Linked DNA regions of Homo sapiens: region 1 is linked to region 2. The links come from fine-mapping of genetic effects on gene expression. A gene starts in region 2. The other region holds a variant in brackets. All regions are shown on one strand. Distances are between the middles of the regions.

Region 1 (5,385 bases), 130 kb before region 2:
AGCACAGAGATTCCTTCAAGGTTGTCTGTCAGGTCAGAATTATTTTCATAATAATACTAAGATGTCCTTTGCCTTTTTATGCGTGTGTTGCTAAAGCACTGATGATGCAAAAGCAAAGGTAAGTAAAACTGCTGACATTTTAGTATGAATCAAGGAATTGTACCAAATTGTGTGGGCAATCATTGTATTCTTCTCGTTACACACTTGTAAGGTATAATAAATAAACCCAGTTTCACTTAAAAATGTCCTTGATGAAGCAATAAAAGTTATTTTGTTGGGTCTTGACCCTTGAATCTTTTTAACATTCTGTGGGCAAAACGGGAACCATACATAATGTTCTTGCATAACAAAGTGCGATGATTATCTCAAGAAAAAGTACTCATGGTTTTTGAGTTCCAAGGTTGAAGTAGTCTCTGTTTTTTGGAACACCATTTTTACTTGAAAGAATGACAGACAAACTGGTTGTTAATACTTGAGTACTGGGCAGACAGTTCCTCAGAAATGAATAAAGTGAGCCTGTCACTTCAGGGAAAACAACTGATTGTATTTGTTGTCAATGATGAAATTTGATTTATAGAAAACATGGGCTTGACAGCTACTCAATATTTAAAGACTTTTCTGATGAGATTGGAGGTGATATTAATGAATGTGGTTTTTTTTTTTTAGACGGAGTCTTGCTCAGTTGCCCAGGCTGGAGTGCAGTGGCGTGATCTCGGCTCACTGCAAGCTCTGCCTCCTGGGTTCACGCCATTCTCCTGCCTCAGCCTCCCTAGTAACTGGGACTACAGGTGCCCACCACCACGCCTGGCTAATTTTTTGTATTTTTAGTAGAGATGGGGTTTCACCATATTAGCCAGGATGGTCTCGATCTCTTGACCTTGTGATCCGCCTGCCTTGGCCTCCCAAAGTGCTGGGATTACAGGCATGAGCCACCACGCCTGGCCGGTTTTTTTTTTTTTTTAAATAGTAATAAAATGTGCCGACATTTGGAAGATCTGTATAATTCAAAGAACCAATAATTTCTAAATGACCAATGCACGATGTTAAGAAGTTATGCATACATAGTTAAAAGATCCATTGAACGTGCCAGATAGACCAATGGATTTTAATGTAAAACAGAGAAAGAAAAGTTCATTGATAGAGTTTCAGATTCCATATTGCACTTAACCTTTAAGAAATAACCCTTACTGAATTTTGGTAATATCAAAGAAGAATATCAATAATTGTATGAATATGCCAATCAAATAATTTTCCTTTTTCTAATTACATACTTGTGTGCGGTCATATTTCTTATACTTAAAGCAAAACAATGTATCACAACCACCGAATGCAGAAGCAGGTTTAAGAAAACAGCTGTATTCTATTAAGCCAAACACTGAGATTTGCAAAGAAGTGAAAGAATGTTATTTCCCACTAAAATGTTAAGTTTTGAAAAGTTATAAAAATGTTCTTTATGTTAACAAACACTGTTACATTTAGGTGAATTAATATTTTTAAAAATTCTTTATTTTAAATTTTAATATAGTAAATATAGATAGTTATAACCCACATAAACAAAAGCTCTTTGGGAGTCTGCAATAATTTTAAAGAGTAAAAAGGGGTTCTGAGACCAAAAGTTAAAAAACTGCTAACTTAATATTTGAAGGGCTAAGTTGACTTATTCTAAAAGAAATAAAGGGTGGGTTCAGCCATTTTATTAAGTTTAGATGAAACCAAAGTAAAGTATATGTATAGTACTGGATTTTAATTATTTTTGTGTCCATTTGCAGTTTTTAAATTAAAGCATTACTTCTGTTTGTTAAATCAGTGAATATCATGCCCTACTGCTAGCTTAATCTTGGGCTAACTAGAAAATGTCATAGATTTTCCAACTTTCGAAAAGGTAACTTAATGTGTCCAAAATTATGAGAACAAAAACATGAAAGGCTGTGTCTGTAATCTCTGTATGGTAATTATATGTCATGTACCTCTCCAAGAATGACTGTTCAGTCAATGTGAAGTTCAAGATAGTTAATATATGTGAAAATATTCTGTAGATAGGTAAAAGCTTATATTAATATTAGATTTATTGTTGGCTGTCATGCAAAGTAATTGAATTTGAATTTATGGGGGGGAGAAATTAAGTTGAAGGAATATATATATATATATATATATATATATAT[ATATATATATG/G]TATACACACACACATACATACACACACATATGTATATATATATATATATATTTTTTTTTTTTTTGGAGACAGAGTCTTTCTCTGTCATCCAGGCTGGAATGCAGTGGTGAGATCATAGTTCACTGAAGCTTCTGACTCCTGGCCTCAAGTGATCCTCCTGTCTTAGCCTCCTGCGTAGCTAGGACTGCAGGCACACACCACTGTCCCCAGCTAATTAAAATTTTGTTTTTTTGTAGACAAGGAGTCTTGCTGTGTTGTACAGGCTGGTCTCAAACTCCTGGCCTGAAGCAATTCTCTGGCCTCAGCCTCCCAAAGTGCTGGGATTATGGGTATGAGCCACCTCCCCTAGCCAATACATTTTTTCCCTTAAAACCACTAATTTTCTATGTACCCTCAGACCAGTGCTGCAAAATAAAAAAGCCATTAATTTTCCTGAAATACCTTACTACTTGGATACTTGGATAACCCTTAATGGTGGTGCTGTTTACCCAGTTAATTATTTTTCATAAAGCAAACATTCTGGTTTATGCACATTTAAAGTTAGATACATAAATTAGTTATTTCAGATGTATCATAGTGACATGCAAATATTACATAGTTATGTTATTTTATAAATTATCTCAAAAATTTATTAAAAGACCACACTACAACCATAGTTTTAAGTTACAGTGCCATGATCAAAAACCACCATCAGTTAAGCACCAACACAGAACAGATGGTCCAAGAGGACATACAACAGGTTTACATTCTGGAGGAGAAGAGCATAGAGCCATTAAAGCTATCAGATTTCTGTTTCTTATATATATTAGTTAATGAATAAGTAAAGATATAATCCTTGATCATACAAGGACCAAATCTCAGAGTATTAGCGTTGCAAAATTGCTAACTTTAACTTCATCTTTTTTCCTGATTTACAAATTTTTATATACAGTGGTTGATAATACTACTGTCCGTTTATTATTTTAATTGAAATTAATGCAACTTGTCATAAGTAGATCATTTATAAATGTGAAATTGCTTGAGGCCCTCTTTTACTGCCATGTTGCATTTAACTCCTGGTTGGACAGATTTGAGCCATATTGCTAGGCTATTTGTCACTAAAGCATTTTTTTAGTTTTCATCTTATAAAGAAGATGGTTGACTTGAAATTGTGTTGCCTTGGAAATAGCTGTGTGTGATTGGAAAGGTACTTGCTCACGTTTGACATGTCACATGTATATTGTTCAGTAGCTCATCTTTTATTTTAGAAAACGGCCTTTCCAAAGATACATTCTTTAGAAAAAAATGGTATAGTATGCTTTCAAAAAGAGCCTGATAAAAACTTTATTAATTGTGATTATTCTGAATTAATTTTTGTTTTGCATTTTAAGTATTAAAATGAAAGGCAGAATATTTGGAATATTTAATAGACTACATTTTCTCTTTAGAGAATTCTGTGAGTCATACTTAATAGACTACATTTCTTTTTAGAGCATTCTGGAGTCATACCATACTGTTTGTTTAAATTACTGTATTGTGATTTTTATTATATTAAAAGTAATAGAATACAGGATTCAACCTGAGGAAGCTGATAAAAACACACACACACAGGAATGAGTGTTTTTTCTGTCTTTATATAGGATGCATTCTTTTTATAGAAGAAATTTTTAATACTGTTTTCTTTTCTTATGGTTTATGCTTAGTCTCACAAATGTCTTATGACTCTGAATTCCTGACATCGAATTCTATGCAGAGATAGCTTTATCAAATGTGCTTCAGCTAAGTAACAATCCAACACAATTATTAATATTTTTCCCTCAGGTAAATGAAATAGGTTTCATGAAACAATAAAAAGTCCTTAAAAAATGTTTTACGTGCTTAAAAAATTAATTAGTACCAAAAGGTTCACAGTGACAAACAAAAATTCTCTGCTGTATTTCTCCTCATATCTCAGTTCAGTTCTCTGGAGTGCCACTTTTTTTTTTTTTTTTTTGAGACAGAGTCTCATTCTGTCGCCCAGGCTGGAGTACAGTGGCGCAATCTCGGCTCACTGCAACCTCCGCCTCCCAGCTCAAGCAATTCTCTGCCTCAGCCTCCTGAATAACTGGGATTACAGGCACCCACCACCACGCCCAGCTAATTTTTTTTTTAATTTTTAGTAGAGACGGGGTTTCACCATCTTGGCCAGGCTGGTCTTGAACTCCTGACCTCATGATCCACCCGCCTTGACCTCCCAGGCATGAGCCTCTGTGCCTGGCCCAGAGTGACAGCTTTTTAAACTTTTTTAAAAGCAATTTCTTCTGTTATTTAGCCCATATATAGGGATAATGTGTCTATTCTGGTATTTCTTGATTTATTCCTTTTAGACATTGTCTATGACTTCCTGATAGTGGTAGATAAGATTTTATCTTTTTTATGCTCCTGTATTTCTTCTTACCCTATCTTTCTAATATAGTTAACACAGGTTTAGTTAAATCAGTCATCAGTATTTACATTATTATAACTATATAATATTTACTGCAAAGCCAGGTATTATTTTTCCGAAGCTACTAATTCTCTTGATTTGCATAATTTTCTATAAATTACCCTTAAAGAGTCAACCATTTTTCATGGAGGTGGAGCTTAGGACTTTTCTTTCTTTCTTTTTTTTTTTGTTAGGCAGGGTCTTGCTCTGTCACCCAGGTGGGAGTGCGATGGTATAATCACAGTCCACTGCAGCCTCAAACTCCTGGGCTCAAGCAATCTTCCTGCCTCATTTTTAAATTTTTTTGTGGAGATGAGGTTTCACTGTGTTGCCCAGGGTAGTCTTGAACTCCTGGGCTTACACAATCCTCTTGCTTTGGCCTTCCAAAGTGCTGGGATTACAGGCGTAAGCCATCGTTGCCAGCCCAGGAGCTTAGGACTTTTCTGGTAGTTTCACCTGAGGGCAGTCCCTCTCACCTAAAGAGATCACATCCTTAGGGTGAAAAGGCCTGTTTTCCGTGATCCTAACATGTGTCAGTATGGCCCTTACTCAAACTGGGCATGCATCAAATGGGAAACTCAAGCCTTATAATGGGAAGTTTATTGCTTTCTAGATCCATGCCGAGAGTGCTTAATGGTTATCCTGGGCTCTAAGTACAGATAGTTTATAGTAATAGATAATGATATAATATCTGATGATTATAAAGAAATAGGAACTTTTCAGTTCTGTTTTCATACTAAAATAACTCTTGAGTAGGTACAATGTAGAA
Region 2 (5,385 bases):
AACTACTTTGATGGTTTACCAACTGATTTCTGCTTGTTTCTCAACTGCCTTGCAAGCCAAGTAAGACAGCAAAGAATTACTTCTCACAGAAATTAAACTTCAGTAGATATCTGCGAGTAGTAGGTAAAATGATAGCAGTTGGAGTAAACTTCAATAGTTTTCAACTGTTGTGCCTGTTAGGTTCAGTTAAAAAAAATTTCCAGGCCTAGCGCACTGGCTCACACCTGGAATCATAGCACTTTGGGAGGCTGAGGCGGGCAGATCACTTCAGGTCAGGAGTTCAAAACCGGCCAGGCCAATTGTACTAAAAATACAAAAAAAATTAGCCGGGCATGGAGGCAGACACCTGTAATCCCAGCTACTCTGGAAGCTGAGGCAGGAGAATCGCTTGAACCTGCGAGGCGGAGGTTGCAGTGGGCTGAGATCGTGCCATTGCACTCCAGCCTGGGTGACAGAGTGAGACTCCATCTCAAAAAAAAAAAAATGTCCAGGAGAGGAGTTTGCATTAAATCATTCAGTAACACCGATTACACACCTTTGTAGTAGGCATTGGGAAAGTGGGGAAAAAAAAGAGGTTGGTAGGTTGGGATGGGGGCATGAGTTAGGAGGTAAGATGATGGTGTAGCAGGATGAGCCGCAGACAAAACCTCTCAGACACCGAGTTGTAGAAGGAAGGGCTTTATTCAGCTGGGAGCATTGGCAAGCCACTGCCTTAAAATCCGAGCTCCCTGAGTGCACAATTTCTGTCCCTTTTAAGGGTTCACAACACTAAAGATTTCACATGAAAGTGTCGTGATTGATTTGAGCAAGCAAGGGGTACGTGACAGGGGCTGCATGCACCGGTGGTCAGAGACAAACAGAACAGGGCAGGGAGTTTCACAATGTTCTATACAATGTCTGGAATCTATGAATAACATCGGTTTCTAGGTTATGAGTTGATTTTTATTTTATTTATTTATTTATTTATTTATTTATTTATTTATTTATTTTGAGACGGAGTCTCGCTCTGTCACCCAGGCTGGAGTGCAGTGGCGCCATCTCGGCTCACTGCAAGCTCCGCCTCCCAGGTTCACGCCATTCTCCTGCCTCAACGTCCCAAGTAGCTGGGACTACAGGCACCCGCCACCACACCCGGCTAATTTTTTTTAATATATATTTAGTAGAGACGGGGTTTCACCGTGTTAGCCAGGGTGGTCTCGATCTCCTGACTTCGTGATCCACCCGCCTCGGCCTCCCAAAGCGCTGGGATTACAGGCGTGAGCCACTGCGCCCAGCCTGAGTTGATTTTTAACTACTGGGTTTAGGCCAGGCAGAGCCAGGCCTGGTTTTGGGCCTGGCGCCGGACTGCCTGTCTTTGATTTCACTTCTTTTTTCTCTCTTAAAACAGGTACTGAGTATAAAACAATATAAAACAATATGAGAGGGTCTCTCTCTTCCCTCAATGGCAAGTATGCTTTTGAGTAATGAACTTCTGTACCATACCAATTACCCAGGGGAGTGGTAGATCTTAAAGACAAAGATTAATTGATTGATTTTGTTTTCTTCTCAAATTCCTTTTACCAAAAGACAGAGATAATAAAACAATATTTATATTTGAGAGGTGGTGATGGTTGTGGTCAAAACGACCAGCTGAAAGTCATAATGTCCAAGCAAGATGAGGGAAAGCTCTGGGGGCAGGCAGTAATAACCATAACAGCAAACACATACTATGAACCAGGCACTACTTATCAACAGTTTATCAACCCATTAAAAGCTTATTGCAGCCGGGCGTGGTGGCTCATGCCTGTAATCCCAGCACTTTGGGAGGCTTAGGTGGGCAGTCACCTGAGGTCAGGAGTTCGAGACCAGCTTGGCCAACATGGTGAATTAGTGAGGCATGGTGATGTGCCCCTGTAATCTCAGCTACGCGGGAGGCTGAGGCGGGAGAATCACTTGAACCCAGGAAGCGGAGTTTGGTTGCAATGAGCCGAGATCGCGCCATTGTGCTCCAGCTTGGGCGACAGAGTGACACTGTCTCAAAAAAAACAAAAAACAGTCTGGGAGAGGTGGCTAACGCCTGTCATCCCAGCACTTTGGGAGGCCGATGTGGGCGGATCATCTGAAATAGGGAATTCGAGACCAGCCTGACCAACATGGAAAAACCCTGTCTCTACAAGAAACACAAAATTAGCCAGGAGTGGTGGCACATGCCTGTAATCCCAGCTACTCGGGAGGCTGAGGCAGGAGAATCGCTTGAACCCGGGAGGCAGAGGTTGCGGTGAGCTGAGATCGTGCCATTGCACTCCGGCCTGGGCAACAAGAGCGAAACTCCATCTCAAAAACAAATAGAAACAAAAACACAACAAAAACCTTATTACAATCCTGTGAACTAGCTACTGTCATTACTATAATGTAGATGAACAAACTGGGACATGGACAGTTGACAAAACATTCCCAACCACACACTAGGAATGAGCTGGGATAGGAAACCAGGCACTCTGGCTCTATTACTCCTAATGCCATACACACGAGCTGACTTAGGAGAAAACAGAAAGTACTGTTCGCACAATACTAACTGGTTCTACCGCCACTGTTCGCTTGCATTTGTTTTTTCCTTCTTGTTAGGAACACGTATCTTTGAAGGAGGTATCATTTCTCCCACAATTCTCCATTTAACGTTTCCTACAGTGTTAAGCACCACCGAGGCCTCTCATAGCCCCAGAGAAGAAGTAATTTGCTTCCTAGAAATCCTCACTGTATCCAGATTCCCTCCCAGAGGAGCCATCAGTTCTCATGGGTGGCACTTTTTCTCCAGCTGATTACACTTTTTTTCTGTACCAGTTAATTTTTCCAACTTCTAATTGAATAAAGGCAGTTTTCTTAAAAAAAAAAAAAAGAGAAAGAAAAACGGAAAGGAAGGAAGAGGAAAGGAAGGAAGAAATGAAGAAAGGAAGGAAGGAAAGAAAGGAGAGGGACAGAAAGAAAAAAAGGAAAGAGAGAAAGAAAGGAAAGGAAAGTAAGAAATGGAAGGGACCTGCAGAAACGATTCACCACGCGCGGCTGACCCTGGGAGGAGCCACAGGTTGAACCAGCGCCTCCCAGGCTGGACGCCCGCCGCGGACACCGCAGACAGTCCCACCCCCAGCGGCGACAGCAACTCTCTGAATTCCGGAAAGAACCTTTTCCAGCGGGACCGGAAGCCCGGCGGGGACCGTAGCGGGGACGGACTGACCTACCGACCATTCTTCCGGGTCCAGAAGGTGATCTCCGCCCGTGCTCAGAATCCAGGGGCCCGGGGCTGTAGGTAGGAGTTAAGTGGGTAGGATCCCTTAACCAGGGTTGTCCGGTGCAGGTGGTGTGTGTTGTTTCGCCTAACGTGTCAGTGGCACAAATCACGCGAACTTCATAAACATTGTGCGTTCGGAAGCCTTTCCAAGATGCATTTAATCCCTGCGTGAGCCCACGTTAGGCATTCACGAAGGCATGTGCACTGTTCTCTCGGAAGCGGCTGGCCGGCTTCCCCTCCTCGCGCGCGGCTGTGGGTGCAGGTCCTCACTTCCCAGCCTCCCATGGGCCCAAGGCCTTCTGGGCTCCAATTTGAGGCGAGCCACCCCAGATCCGTAATTTTTCTGCAGTGATTTATTTTTACCTTTCTGGTAAGTTCCAAAGCTTCCAGCTCACATTCAGACGTTTTCCCTAACGCAACTACGTATTTGCAACATACTTTTTTCAGATTCCTTGACAAGGATATCCTAGCGGCGAAACAACACCGTACTGGGAGTCAGAACGTCTGGGTTCTAGTCTTGACTGCCATTAACTAGCGGTATGACATTGGAGAAGCTTTTTTGACCCTTCTGGATTTCCGTTTCCTTTTCTGTAAAATGAGGAGCTTGGAGTAAGTGACAAGTTTCCTTCCAGTTTTGACATTTGGGTTATTGCCTCCAATGTGTCTTTCCAGTTCCTGCCTCAATTACATATCTGTGCTTTGGTTAATATCTCGTAGGGTCCTTCCTCCCACTCCATTAATCTGTGCTCTTCTCAAATCTGGTTTCATACTGATTTAAAAATTATTTTCTCAAGGAATCCTGTGTTACCTGAGCACTCTACTTCTTGGTCCAGGGGCACAAACGTAAATAAGATATTTTCCATGTGCCATTCTTAGAAGTATTTAATGTGTGTAAATACTATTGAATGAATTTCCAAATCTTCTTTTTTTTTTCTTTAGACAGAGTCTCACTGTCGCCCAGGCTGGAGTGCAGTGGCCTGATCTCGGCTCACTGCAGTCTCTGCCTCCTGGGTTCAAGCGATTCTCCTGCCTCAGCCTCCCAAGTCGCTGGGATTACAGGCGCCCGCCACCGTACCCGGCTAATTTTTGTACTTTTAGTAGAGAGGGGGTTTCACCATGTTGGCCAGGCTGGTCTCGAACTCCTGACCTCAGGTGATCCGCCCGCCTCGACCTCCCAAAGTGCTAGGATTACAGGCATGAGCCATCACGCCCAGCCTGAATTTCTAAATCTTAATGTGTTTATTTCGTTGGCATTAAGTTAGATTTTTCCTTGATCTTTACTCGAATAAGCCTTTTAAGGTAAAATGCTTGCTCGATTACACACACATACACAACCTCATAATTGTCCGAAGGTAAACAAGTTAATGACTTGTGAATATTTTTAACTTATAAGCAATGAATCCTCAAAGCTTATAAGCGAGTATCAAGACATGTGATATGGTTTTAAAATAGCTGATGATAAAGTATATACATCATCTCATTTTCTCCTCTTAGTCTTGTAATAGGAAGGACAGATATTCAAACACTTATTTATTTATTTATTTTTAACAGAGATCCGGAAAATGAGGCCCATAGGAAACAAGTGACTTGCTGAGTCCAGATAACACTGACTGTCAGAGTGAGTGTCCACCTAAGGTTCCTTTGTTGCCTAATAAGATACTTTCTTTGCTATACTGTACTTGTTTCTGTTATCATTTCTTTTCTTTCTTTTAAAAAATATTCAGTATAGGCCAGGCGCGGTGGCTCACGCCTGTAATCCCAGCACTTTGGGAGGCCAAGGCGGATAGATCACCTGAGGTCAGGAGTTCAAGACCAGCCTGGCCAACACGGTGAAACCCCGTCTCTACTAAAAATACAAAATAATTAGCCGGGTGTGCTGGCAGGCACCTGTAATCCCAGCGACTTGGGAGGCTGAGGCAGGAGAATCCCCTGAACCCAGCAGGTGGAGGTTGTAGTGAGCCAAGATCACGCCATTGCACTCCAGCCTGAGCGATGAGCAAAACTCCATCTCAAAAAAAAAAATTCAGTATATTCTATTTACCATGTCAGAACCATACATTTACTATGTCAGAACCATAAAATACACTTTGGGAAGATTGGTTGAAATGTAACATTTAGGC

Direction of the effects. Alleles are on the strand shown, and positions count from the first base shown. SD is a standard deviation of normalised expression in the study named.
In carriers of allele G in region 1, the expression in neutrophils of the gene that starts at base 3,221 in region 2 tends to be lower than with ATATATATATG alone (large effect, 2.4 SD a copy in BLUEPRINT).

What was found. PIP is the estimated chance that this variant, and not a neighbour inherited with it, causes the effect. A credible set is the group of variants that fine-mapping cannot tell apart.
Region 1: its variant is the best candidate, but not a certain one, in a credible set for the expression of MTIF2 in neutrophils (BLUEPRINT, PIP 0.75).

The regions. Positions count from the first base shown.
Region 1 is chr2:55,398,287-55,403,671 of GRCh38, reverse strand. The region is part of intron 2 of CCDC88A (coiled-coil domain containing 88A); the gene reads left to right. Among named protein-coding and RNA genes, the nearest start is that of CCDC88A, 19 kb to the left of the region's middle. The variant ATATATATATG/G (reference allele first, on the strand shown) is at 2,163.
Region 2 is chr2:55,267,067-55,272,451 of GRCh38, reverse strand. It overlaps MTIF2 (mitochondrial translational initiation factor 2), which reads left to right and starts at 3,221. Exons shown (of 16, transcript NM_002453.3): 1 at 3,221-3,283; 2 at 3,713-3,874; 3 at 4,817-4,883. RefSeq lists enhancers at 2,360-3,183, 3,129-3,278.